3 linked regions of the Homo sapiens genome follow. The protein of the gene in region 2 binds, or shares a complex with, the protein of the main gene of each other region. Each region holds a gene or a part of one and is shown on either strand. Other genes may lie near its edges. The genes, in order: SNRPB, CRIPT and BUD13.

Region 1 (3,477 bases), on a different chromosome or scaffold from region 2:
GACATGGTTATGGTACAACTGGTTGTGATCACAAAGGTTTATGATGGGTTATGTTAGACCAGCCAATTCTACTGGAAGTAGGTACTAAGAGATTTGAATATGTACATGGACTTTGAACCAAGATATGCTAACATCCCTTGCAGACATTTTTAACTGGAAAAGGCAAAAACGTAAAAATCTCCAAAAAAGAAAATGATTAGGATAAACTACTCTGTACTCATTTGAGAAAATCTCAGTCATTAACTTGACTTTAAAAGTGTTGAGCAACTAGAAAAATGTTAACATTAAGTGAAAACACAGAACAACATAATATATGCCCACTATGTGTTAAGTACAAAAAAATCCAGATAATATATGTGGATTTTTAAAAAGTTAAAAGGATTATTCTCTTTTGATTAAAATAACGTCTTGGCAGGGCGTGGTGGCTCACATCTGTAATCCCCGCTACTCGGGAGGCTGAGGCAGGAGAATCACTTGAACCCGGGAGGCAGAGGTTGCAATAAGCCAAGATCGTGCCACTGCACTCCAGCCTGGCGACAGAGCGAGACTCCATCTAAAAATCTAAAAAAAAAAAAAAAAAAAACCCTTCAAATGAAAAAGGGAAAGGGAAAACAAATTTGACTAGGTCTCTAAAGCCTGCTCTATTTCTATGTGTAGCTTGGTGTTTACAGAATCAAGACTGTCTGAGATCAAATGTCAGTTTCACCACTTAGTGGCTGTGGCACCTTGGGCAAGTTACTAAGCCCTGGTTTATTCTATTTATAAGATGAGAATTTATCTCTAAAGAGACCTAAAGGATCAAATAAAATACTGAAGTGGTTGGCGCAAGGTAGATTCTCAGTAACTATGAACTGTAACTGTACAAAACAAAATACACACATTTCCTATTGTTTCGGAGTTACAACTTTTTAAGGTCTACCTAGGCTTTGTCGTCACATTAAGAACTGACCCAGATGGCTTCAGGTGCTTCCTCCACTGACTCACTATGTACATCAACTGAGAAACAGGTAGAGCTTTAAAGTCTGAGATACCCAAATTCTAGTTCCCCTTTTCCACTTCTTTCTTGCAGGGTAACCTCTTTTTTTTTTTTTTGTCTTTTTTTTTTTCTTCCTTTTTCTGGAGAATGGGGTCTCGCTATATTGCCCAGGCAGGTCTCGAACTCCTGGGCTCAAGCTATCCTCCCGCCTCTTGCCTCCCTGAGAGCTGGGATTACAGATGTGAGCCACCGCGCCCGGCCTCTTGCAGGGTAACCTCTTTAAGATTTCATTTATTATCTGAAAAAGGGGGCAAAATCCAGAGGATGCCTGTGAGAACTGCAATGAAACAGAATCTAACACAGAGCCTGGCTCACAGTAGGGCCTCCCCTCCTCCACAAGGCTTCCTGCTCTGACTTACATCTTTGGGAGGAGGTCCCTCTACTGTCATTGAGACCAGATTCTCCCCTCGCAGCAGCACCAGACCGAGGACTCGCTTCTCTTCCCTTTCTGCTTGTTTGGAGTTCTTTGGCCTAAAGAGAGGTTTAGAAGGAACAAAAAAAGTGTTAGAGGTGGGTAAAGTTCACCTGCCTAGTGGCCTCCAAGATTTGCTTATACTGCATCTCCTAACAAACAGTACACAAACTTTCCCAAGATAGCCCTCCTGGATAGTCTCTACAGGCTGAACACATAACCTCTTAGGTGGCTATCTACCTGTTTCCTACCATGCCAAGAGGACACACTGACCAAGAGATAGGACAAGGTCAACAAAGCCCAGCCCGGGCCCAAATGCTATTCCACAGCAACCGTGAAGGCCCTTCCCTCAGCCAAGTCTTCTTTCTTAGGACCCTATTCCCTCCCTTCAGCTTAAGGTCTTGCCAACATCAGGAGGCTGCCTAAACAATTCCAATCAAATGACTCCCACCCACCTCACTTACGTGCAGTGTCCTTCTAATATCAATTCAACCTCACAGGCCTATAATTCTGCCCCTCATCTTACATCAGAAATAGGAGAAGCCATAGAAGGAAAAGGTTAAGAGAAATTTCACATACACAGAAATTGAAATTTCATATCTGTTCCTCAAAAGCATAAAAACAGAAACCCCCAAAAAGCAACAACCAGAAAAAGATGAACAAAATATAAATGTGAAGTAGGAAAAATAACTGCAACAGGATAGGAAAGTGGGGAAAAAAGCTAAAGCTAGATCCTAAAAATAAAGGGGAAAAAATAGCCTGATTTAAAAAAAGAACTCAAAAGATTTTGTTTTGATATTTTACAGTATATTAACTGGTTGTCTGTGGATGGACAGTTTTTCCCTTTTTTGGCTCACATTTTCTTATTTTTTAAAATAATAACCATGTATTGTCCTTTCATAATTAGAAAAAAACCCTTCGGGGTATTTTAGTTTCTATTCATAGACTTCTTTGTATTTTCAAAAATATTTTCCAATAAACATTTTTTATAATCAGGAGGGAACTTTGGAGTAGCTCCACGCTCATCTGTTGGCCCCTCTCTAATACGTACCTGGCACCAAGGCATCCCTACCACATTTTTAAACTATACTTCTTGACCTTGGGTCACAGAAGAAATCAGCCCCAAGGAGAATCAAAGGGAATTCAAAGTGAGTGACAGAATAATATGGACACTGCATATGACAAAAGAGCTGCTGGCCACGGAAGTCACATCATCTTTTTGTGCCTCAAGTAGCCTTGAATGTAAAACATGATGGGAAGCTAAATCATATCTTTTAATGGGCCAAAAGCTTAAGATCTGTGAGACTCAAGGCAAGGGAGTTAGCCAATAACTTACGGAATTGTAGCAAAGTAGACAATATCTCCAATTGTTTGTATAAATGCCAACAAAAATCACTGGCCCCAAACCCACATGGGGAGCTGAGCACTTACCCTGAAGAGGGTCAGAGGCTTCTTAAAGCAGTTTCAGACCAGGCTGCATTGGGAGAGCCCTTTAGGCTACAGCTTTACAAATAGGCAATGAGGCCAGAAACTCAAGCTCTCCCCCCTCACACACCTGTGGGGAGAACATGAGAGCCCTTTACCCCAGTACCCAGGGGCACGCAAAGTGAGAGAAACAAAAAGCCTAGCAGCCCTTCACAACTTGTACTTTGCTAGACTAGAGAGCAAGGTTTGCTGGACTCAAAAAGATTTCTTAGCGTTCAATGTCCCCATTTAAGTCTGCCCTCTAAAACTGGAGAATAAACAGAGAAGAACCAACTAGCTACATCACCACCTCTATTGCTTGGCCCACCCACTCAATCCATTCCCATCCTCCAGTCTCCGCCCCCCACAGTCCACTCCTCACTTGATCTTTCTGAACTCATCACAGTCACAGAGGATCAAATTCATGTGCTTGTCAAAAGCCTTGAAGGTGCCAATGAAGATCCGGCCGTCCTGCAGGATGCACCTCATCCTGTAATCAATATGCTGCAGCATCTTGCTGCTCTTGCCCACCGTCTGCAAGGAGAAATGGACAGGGATGAGACTC
Region 2 (3,615 bases):
TAGCAGATATCACCTAATACAAGTGATCAAAATTAACATCCTTGTAATGGGACAACTGACACCATGATACGGTGCACTGAAAAGAACAATGCCATTTCTGTGGTATCCCCGCCAAAAATGTATAAGCTCAGTCTAATCATCAAGAAATACCAGAAAAACCCAGATTAAGAGTTACTCTATAAAAAGTCTACGGGTTGGGAACAATAGACACTGAGGACTACTAGAGGAGGGAGGGAGGGAAGGTGCAAGGGTTGGAAAACTACCTATTGGGTACTATGCTCACTACCTGGGTGTCGGGATCAATGGTGCCCCAAACCTCAGCATCACGCAATATACCCATGTAACAAACTTGCACATATACTCCCTGAGTCTAAAATAAAAGTTGAAATTAAAAAAAAAAATACAACTGGCCCATAACCTTGGCATTTTGAAAGACTGGCTGAAGAACTGCTCCAGAATAAATGAGACTACAGACATGACAACTAAATGTAATGTTACTCCAGAGTGGATCCAGATCAGACTTTTTTTTTTTTTTGCATATTACTGAAACAATTAGCAAAATATGAAAAAGATTTGATAATAGTAAAGTATTAATGTTAATTTTCTGATTTTGGTAATTGTGCTATGGCTATGCAGGAAAACACCCTTGTTCTTTGGAAATACAAACTTAAGTAATTGGGGTAAAGAGGCACCACATCTAGTAAGGAATATTCAAATGGCTCAGAAAAAAGTACTTACTCGAAGTTGATGATAAAGGGAAACCTCTTCCTTACAGTAGAATGATGACTAATTAATACAGAAATAATAATAGAGTTAGAACAATCACAATTTTGGAAACATCCTAGTAAAAATTTATTCAGACAAGAATCGTCAAAGGATGCTAAACCTAGGAGGGGTAGATTTGATGAGGAACAGAATTGTCAACAAGGTCTCAAAGTTTCTCCTCACAAATTACCCACTAATTGCAAAAGGAAAAACAATAACGATACACTGGAGAAACTGGACATCTTACCCAAGTGATCAAAATTAGCATCACCAATAAGGGACAAATGGACATTCTGTGCATCTGGATGTATACCTGCAATACATATCACTTACAGCATTTCAACCCTCACTGCACTACCCCAATCTAACCATGAGGAAACATCAGAAAAACCCAAATAGAAGGATACTCTATCCTTTAGCTGTCCTGTATTTTTCAAATATATTACTATTATAAAAAACAAAGAAAAGCTGAGGAACTGCTCCAGATTAGAGGGTTATGGCAATACAACATATGATCCTAGGCTGGATCGTGGAGCTGAAAAAAATTACCAATAAAACAGCAAATGAAATTGAAATATGGACTGTAAAGTATTATGGCAATGTTAAATTTCTGAACTTGATAGCTGTACTTGGGTAAGACAGCATGCTTGTTCTTATGAAGTGCATGTGTAGTGTTAAAGGGTAAAGAGTATGATGTCTACAATATACTTTCTAATGGGTCGAGGATTCTAGGATACACACCCCCAGTTAAGGGAACTGGGAGTTAAAAGGTATTCGAAGGCTGCCATAAGGATGTAAAGAGTTAAGTCTCTACCCTTACACCCACTCCAGAGAAAAACAGTACTATTAGCTTCCTGTGTTTTCCACATGGATACAAAAACTTTTGCACACATATGTAATTCTTCTATCATTCTGACAGCTATATATTCTAATGGATGAATATATAAAATGTACTTAAGTGTTCTATTGGCATTTGTTTCTAGTATCTTTTATATTACAATCTGATATCTTAACAGATTCTTTCATCACTTTTACATTTATTTTGATAAAAGTTAGGTTTGGCTTTAATTCCTTGTTTTTAAACTTTTTTTCTGCATTTTTCAACTCTGGCTGTGGCATAAGGCCTTAATTCTGTCATCTTATTTGGTTATAGTGTCTGTTTGTATGTCTTCCTTTTAAAAATATTTTATGTTCATGTTTTGTTTTAGGGTTTTCCTCCTCATCTAGTAAATACTTCTATTCAATTTATGACCATCATTATTATTATTTAGAGAATATGGAGATGGTTCTGAGGTACAATACAACAAAAATCTTCATAGGAGAACCTAAGTGCGGCCACTGGATGATCCATTCATGGAAGGAGGCTACTCAAAGTATGAAGATAAAATGTGAGCTGGACAAGAACTACAAAACACGCTGAAAGAAATCAGAGATGACACAAACAAATGGAAAAACATTCCAAGCTCATGAGCTAGAAGAATCAATATCATTAAAATGGCCATACTGCCCAAAGCAATCCACAGATTCAATGCTATTCCTATCAAACTACAAACATCATTTTTCACAGAATTAGAAAAATCCTGCCGGGTCCAGTGGCTCACGCCTGTAATCCCAGCACTTTGGGAGGCTGAGGCGGGTGGATCACAACGTCAGGAGTTCAAGACCAGCCTGGCTAAGATGATGAAACCCCATCTCTACTAAAATTACATAAATTAGCTGGGCATGGTTGGCGGGCTCCTGTAATCCCAGCTATTTGGGAGGCTGAGGCAGGAGAATTGCTTGAACTCAGGAGGCAGAGGTTGCAGTGAGCTGAGATTGCACAGCTGCACTCAGAGCCTGGGAGACACAGCAAGACTCCGTCTCAAAAAAAAAAAAAAAGAAAAAATCCATTCTAAAATTCATATGGAACCAAAAAATCAATCCTAAGCAAATAAAACAAAGCTGAGGTATCACATTACCTGAGTTAAACTATACTATAAGGAAGCTACAGTAACCAAAACAGCATGGTACAGATATAAAAACAGACCCATAGACCAATGGAATGGAACAGACAGAAATAAAGCTACACACCTACAGCCATCTGACCTTTGACAAAGTTAACAAAAATAAGCAACAGAGAAAGGATTCCCTAATTCAATAAATGGTGCTGGAACAGCTGTCTAGCCATATGCAGAAGACTCAAACTGGACCCCTTTCACCATATATATAAAATTACCTCAAGATAGATTAAAGATTTAAATATAAGGGGCCGGGTGCAGTGGCTCATGCCTGTAATCCCAGCACTTTGGGAGACTGAGGTGGGTGGATCACTTGAGGCTCGGAATTCAAGACCAGCCTGGCCAACATGGTAAAACCCCATTCCTACTAAAAATAGAAAAATTAGCCAGGCGTGGTGGCATGTGCCTGTAATCCCAGTTAGGTTGGGAGGCTGAGGCATGAGAATCGCTTGAGCCTGGGAGGTGGAGGTTGTGGTGAGCCAAGATTGTACCACTGTACTCCAGCCTGGGCAACAGAAGGAGACTCTGTCTTTGGGGAAAAAAAAAAAAAAAGATTTAAATGTAAGACTTCAAGCTATAAGAGTCCTAGAAGAAAACCTACGAAATAACATCTGGACATCAGCTATGGGAAAGAACTTACGGCTAAGTCCTCAAAAGCAATTGCAACAAAAACAAAAATTGACAAGTGGAACCTAATCAAACTAAAGAGCTTCTGCACCGCAAAAGGAACTATCAATACAGTAAACAGACAACCTACAGAATGGGAGAGAATATTCACAAACTGTGCATCTGAAAAAGGTCTAATGTCCAAAATCTATAAGGAACTAAAACAATTCAGAAAACGAAAACCAAG
Region 3 (3,653 bases), on a different chromosome or scaffold from region 2:
ATTAGCCAGGTGCAGTGGCAGGTGCCTGTAATCCAGCTATTCGGGAGGCTGACGCAGGAGAATCGCTTGAACCTGGACAGCAGAGGTTGCAGTGAGCGGAGATCGTGCCACTGCACTCCAGCCTGGGTGACAGAGACTCTGTCTCAAAAAAAAAAAAAAAAAAAAAGAAAGAAAGAAACAAAAAAGAAAAGAAAATATTTAAGGCATATGCAATAGAATCAAAGGGACAAAATATATCATTCATCCTTTTCTTAGTCCTTGTTCACACCCTTCCCCCACTCTGACAGCTATTTCAAACGTTTGCCACTCTAAAAGCCTGGTTCTCTCTCAGCTGATGTCCACATCTTATATTTTATCCATTCATTACACAAACATTTATTGAATTTTCATTATATACTAGGTACCATGGTAGACACTACATGAAAATGAGTATGACACAGCACCTGTCCTGATGAACTCCCAGACTAGTGGAAGAGAGAGACATTTAAACAAATAAATTAAAAGAACAGCATAAACTCTGGTAGAAATACGCATGGGGTGTCATGGAAACAGAATGGGTATCTTAATCAGCTTGGGGGAGGTATGATAAAAAGGTGACATGAGGGTTGGGCAAGAATGATCAGTAAAGGCTCTGTGTTAACTACAGCACTGGGGATGGAAGGGCCAGAAAGGGTCTGGAGGTCATTTCAGAACAGAATGAGCAACAAGAACAAAGGCACGGAAATAAGAAGTGGCCTGGTATGTGCAGCAAACCAAAGGCAAACTGGTATGGCTGGAACCTGAAGTATGACAAAGGGAACAGCCATGAGTCAAAGTTGGAAAGGCGCAGAGGCCAATGCATAATGAGCTGCGTAGGCCATGGTAAAAAGCTTAGATTTCATCCAGAAACGATGGGTTTAAAGCAAGAACTTAAACTGCATTTCAAAGAGATCACTCTGGAGGGGATCTGGGGCAGGAAAATCACTGCAATGGTCCAGGCAACAGATGATGAAGGCAATGATAAAGAGGGACGGAAGAGAGAAGACACAGGAGGCAAAATTAGTAAGACTAATTAGCAGCACTAATTGATTAGGTACACAAGGACAAAGAAGGAGGAGGCAAGTTAGAGAGCACAAGAGTAGGAGCAGGCTTACAGTAGAAGCTGATGAGTTCAGCTTTGAATACAATGCATTTGAAATCTCTCAAGTCTAAATCAATAGAGAAATCCAACAAACAGCTAAATACACCAGACCAAGATGCAAATACTGATTTGGAAATCATGTACATATAGGTCATAGTTGAAAACATGACTAGGTAAGAATCAGCCAGAGGGAGCACATAGAGTGAGAACAGCTAAAAATTATGGATGGAGCCCTGGGAAAGACTTAAGAGGTGCACAGAGGAAGAGGAGTTTGCAAAGGTGGCCAAGAATGATCAGAGAAAAGAACCAGGAGTAGGGTGTCATGGAAAACAATACAGGGGTGAATTTCAAGGAGGTAGTGAGTGGACCTCAAATCCCTTTAATTACCATGCATTCTCTTGGTCTTCTTATCTAAACTTCTTAAAAAGCCTGTATTCACTATTTGTTTCCTCACTTTTCATTCACTCCTTAATACATTAGAACCTGGCCATTGTTTCACTACACAACGGAACTAGCCCTTTCAGGTCATCACTGACATTCCTTGTTGCCAAATCCAATGACTCCTCCTTCCTCTTCCCCAAATCAGCAAACAGGTCCCACCAGCTCACCCCTGACCACATCCCCACTTCCTATTCTCTTACTAACCATCCTTACTACCACTGCCTGCAAGTCGTAGTTCAGACACTCATTACTTTCAGCCTGAGCTACTGCAAAAGCCTTGTATCTGTTCTACTTCCAATCTTGTACCTTTCAAATCCTTCATATTACTGCTATAATGGATTTGTCTATCTAAAATGCAGAGCTGTTTTTAATCCTTCCGTGTCTCCCCTTTACCTCTAGGGTGAAGACCAAGCTCCTCAGATAGGCTTCCAGGGCCTTCTGTGATCACGGTCTGCCAACCTCTCTCATCCATCTCACGCTTTATGCTATCCAACAACAGCAAATTACTTAGGGACCCCCACCACCTGGTAACACCATGGTGTCTCATAGCCTTATGACTCTGCACATATAGGACCCTCTTCCTTTAATATCCTTCCTTTCCTTCTTATCTTGGCTGGTTACCAACATCCCTTAAAACTCAGCTCCCACATTTCATCCGTTAGGAAGCACTTCCTGATCACTCACATCCTCCTAAGGCTCAACTTACTCTTCCTTTGTGCTCCCAAAACATCTTGAAAATCTTCTATAGTAACACTAACCAAACAGCGTTGAAACTGTCTGTCTTCTATTCTAGATTGAAAGTGAGCTCCTGGGCTCAGGGGCTATCTCTCTTTAATCATGGAATCCCTAGTACCTACTACCTAGCTGCTTACACTTATAACATGTATGCTAAGACTTTCCCTTAAGGGATGAGTGGAGTGAGTAACAGAGGGCTTTAAGAAGGGAAGCTTGGCCGGACATGGTGGCTCACGCCTGTAATCCCAGCACTTTGGGAGGCCGAGGCAGGTGAATCACCTGAGATGAGAAGTTCGAGACCAGCCTGGCCAACATGGTGAAACCCTGTCTCTACTAAAAATACAAAAATTAGCTGGGCGTGGTGCTCACGCCTGTAATCCCAGCTACTCGGGAGGCTGAGGCAAGAGAATTGCTTGAACCTAGGAGGCGGAGGTTCCAGTGAGCCAAGATCGTGCCATTTTGCACTCCAGCCTGAGCAACAAGAGCGAAATTCCGTCTCAAAAAAAAAAGAAGGGAAGCTTATTATAAATGGCATCCTCTCCAACCTTAGAAGCATGGATGGTATTCCAAAGCACCAAGGAAACCACTGTTTTTTACCTTGGAAATAAGGTCTTAAGAGAGTTACACTAATATGATAATACAAAGGACATATGAATAACAAACACCAAATCCTAAGCAGAATCAGAAAACAAATTGCAGGAGAACTCACAGTGGAAAGAGCTTTGGACCAGAGAATCAGGAACGCAGAGTTCTAATTCCAGCTTTCTCAGGGAAATTGCATGACTCTAGGCAAACTGCTTATTTATTGGGCCTCAGTTTCTCTTTTTTTTGAGACGGAGTCTTGCTCTGTTGCCCAGGCTGGAGTGCAGTGGCACGATCTCGGCTCACTGCAAGCTCCGCTTCCCGGGTTCACGCCATTCTCCTGCCTCAGCCTTCCGAGCAGCTGGGACTACAGGCGCCCGCCACCACGCCCAGCTAATTTTTTGTATTTTTTTTAGTAGAGACGAGGTTTCACCATGTTAGCCAGGATGGTCTCAATCTCCTGACCTCGTGATCTGCCCGCCTCGGCCTCCCAAAGTGCTGAGATTATAGGCATGAGCCACCGCACCCGGCCCCGTTTCTCTTTCAATTAAGAGAGGCTGGGTAATTATCTTATGGGTTTTTCCAACAGATACTATATATCTGTTCCGGAAATATTCCCTTGCAGCAGGCCGAAAAGAGACAAAACTAGAAAAGATGATGAAAGATGAATAACAAAAAGAAAGCAAGGGTGACAAAGGGAAATAAGAGAAGAAATCTAGGATAAAATCAGAACAAGAAGTGGAAAAAAGCAACTGAGAAAAATGAAGACAAATTA

The links.
Region 1: CRIPT (region 2) and SNRPB share a complex: the UniProt entries of both Homo sapiens proteins name them as parts of the minor spliceosome.
Region 3: CRIPT (region 2) and BUD13 share a complex: the UniProt entries of both Homo sapiens proteins name them as parts of the minor spliceosome.

What each region holds. Positions count from the first base shown.
Region 1 is NC_000020.11:2,464,313-2,467,789, forward strand, and holds part of SNRPB (small nuclear ribonucleoprotein-associated proteins B and B'), read right to left. Parts: intron 3,447-3,477; coding exon 3,295-3,446; intron 1,508-3,294; coding exon 1,396-1,507; intron 1-1,395. UniProt on the Homo sapiens protein: Plays a role in pre-mRNA splicing as a core component of the spliceosomal U1, U2, U4 and U5 small nuclear ribonucleoproteins (snRNPs), the building blocks of the spliceosome.
Region 2 is NC_000002.12:46,627,141-46,630,755, reverse strand, and holds the end of CRIPT (cysteine-rich PDZ-binding protein), read right to left. Parts: 3' UTR 580-3,615; downstream 1-579. UniProt on the Homo sapiens protein: As a component of the minor spliceosome, involved in the splicing of U12-type introns in pre-mRNAs. Involved in the cytoskeletal anchoring of DLG4 in excitatory synapses.
Region 3 is NC_000011.10:116,748,836-116,752,488, forward strand, and holds part of BUD13 (BUD13 homolog), read right to left. Parts: intron 1-3,653. UniProt on the Homo sapiens protein: Involved in pre-mRNA splicing as component of the activated spliceosome. As a component of the minor spliceosome, involved in the splicing of U12-type introns in pre-mRNAs.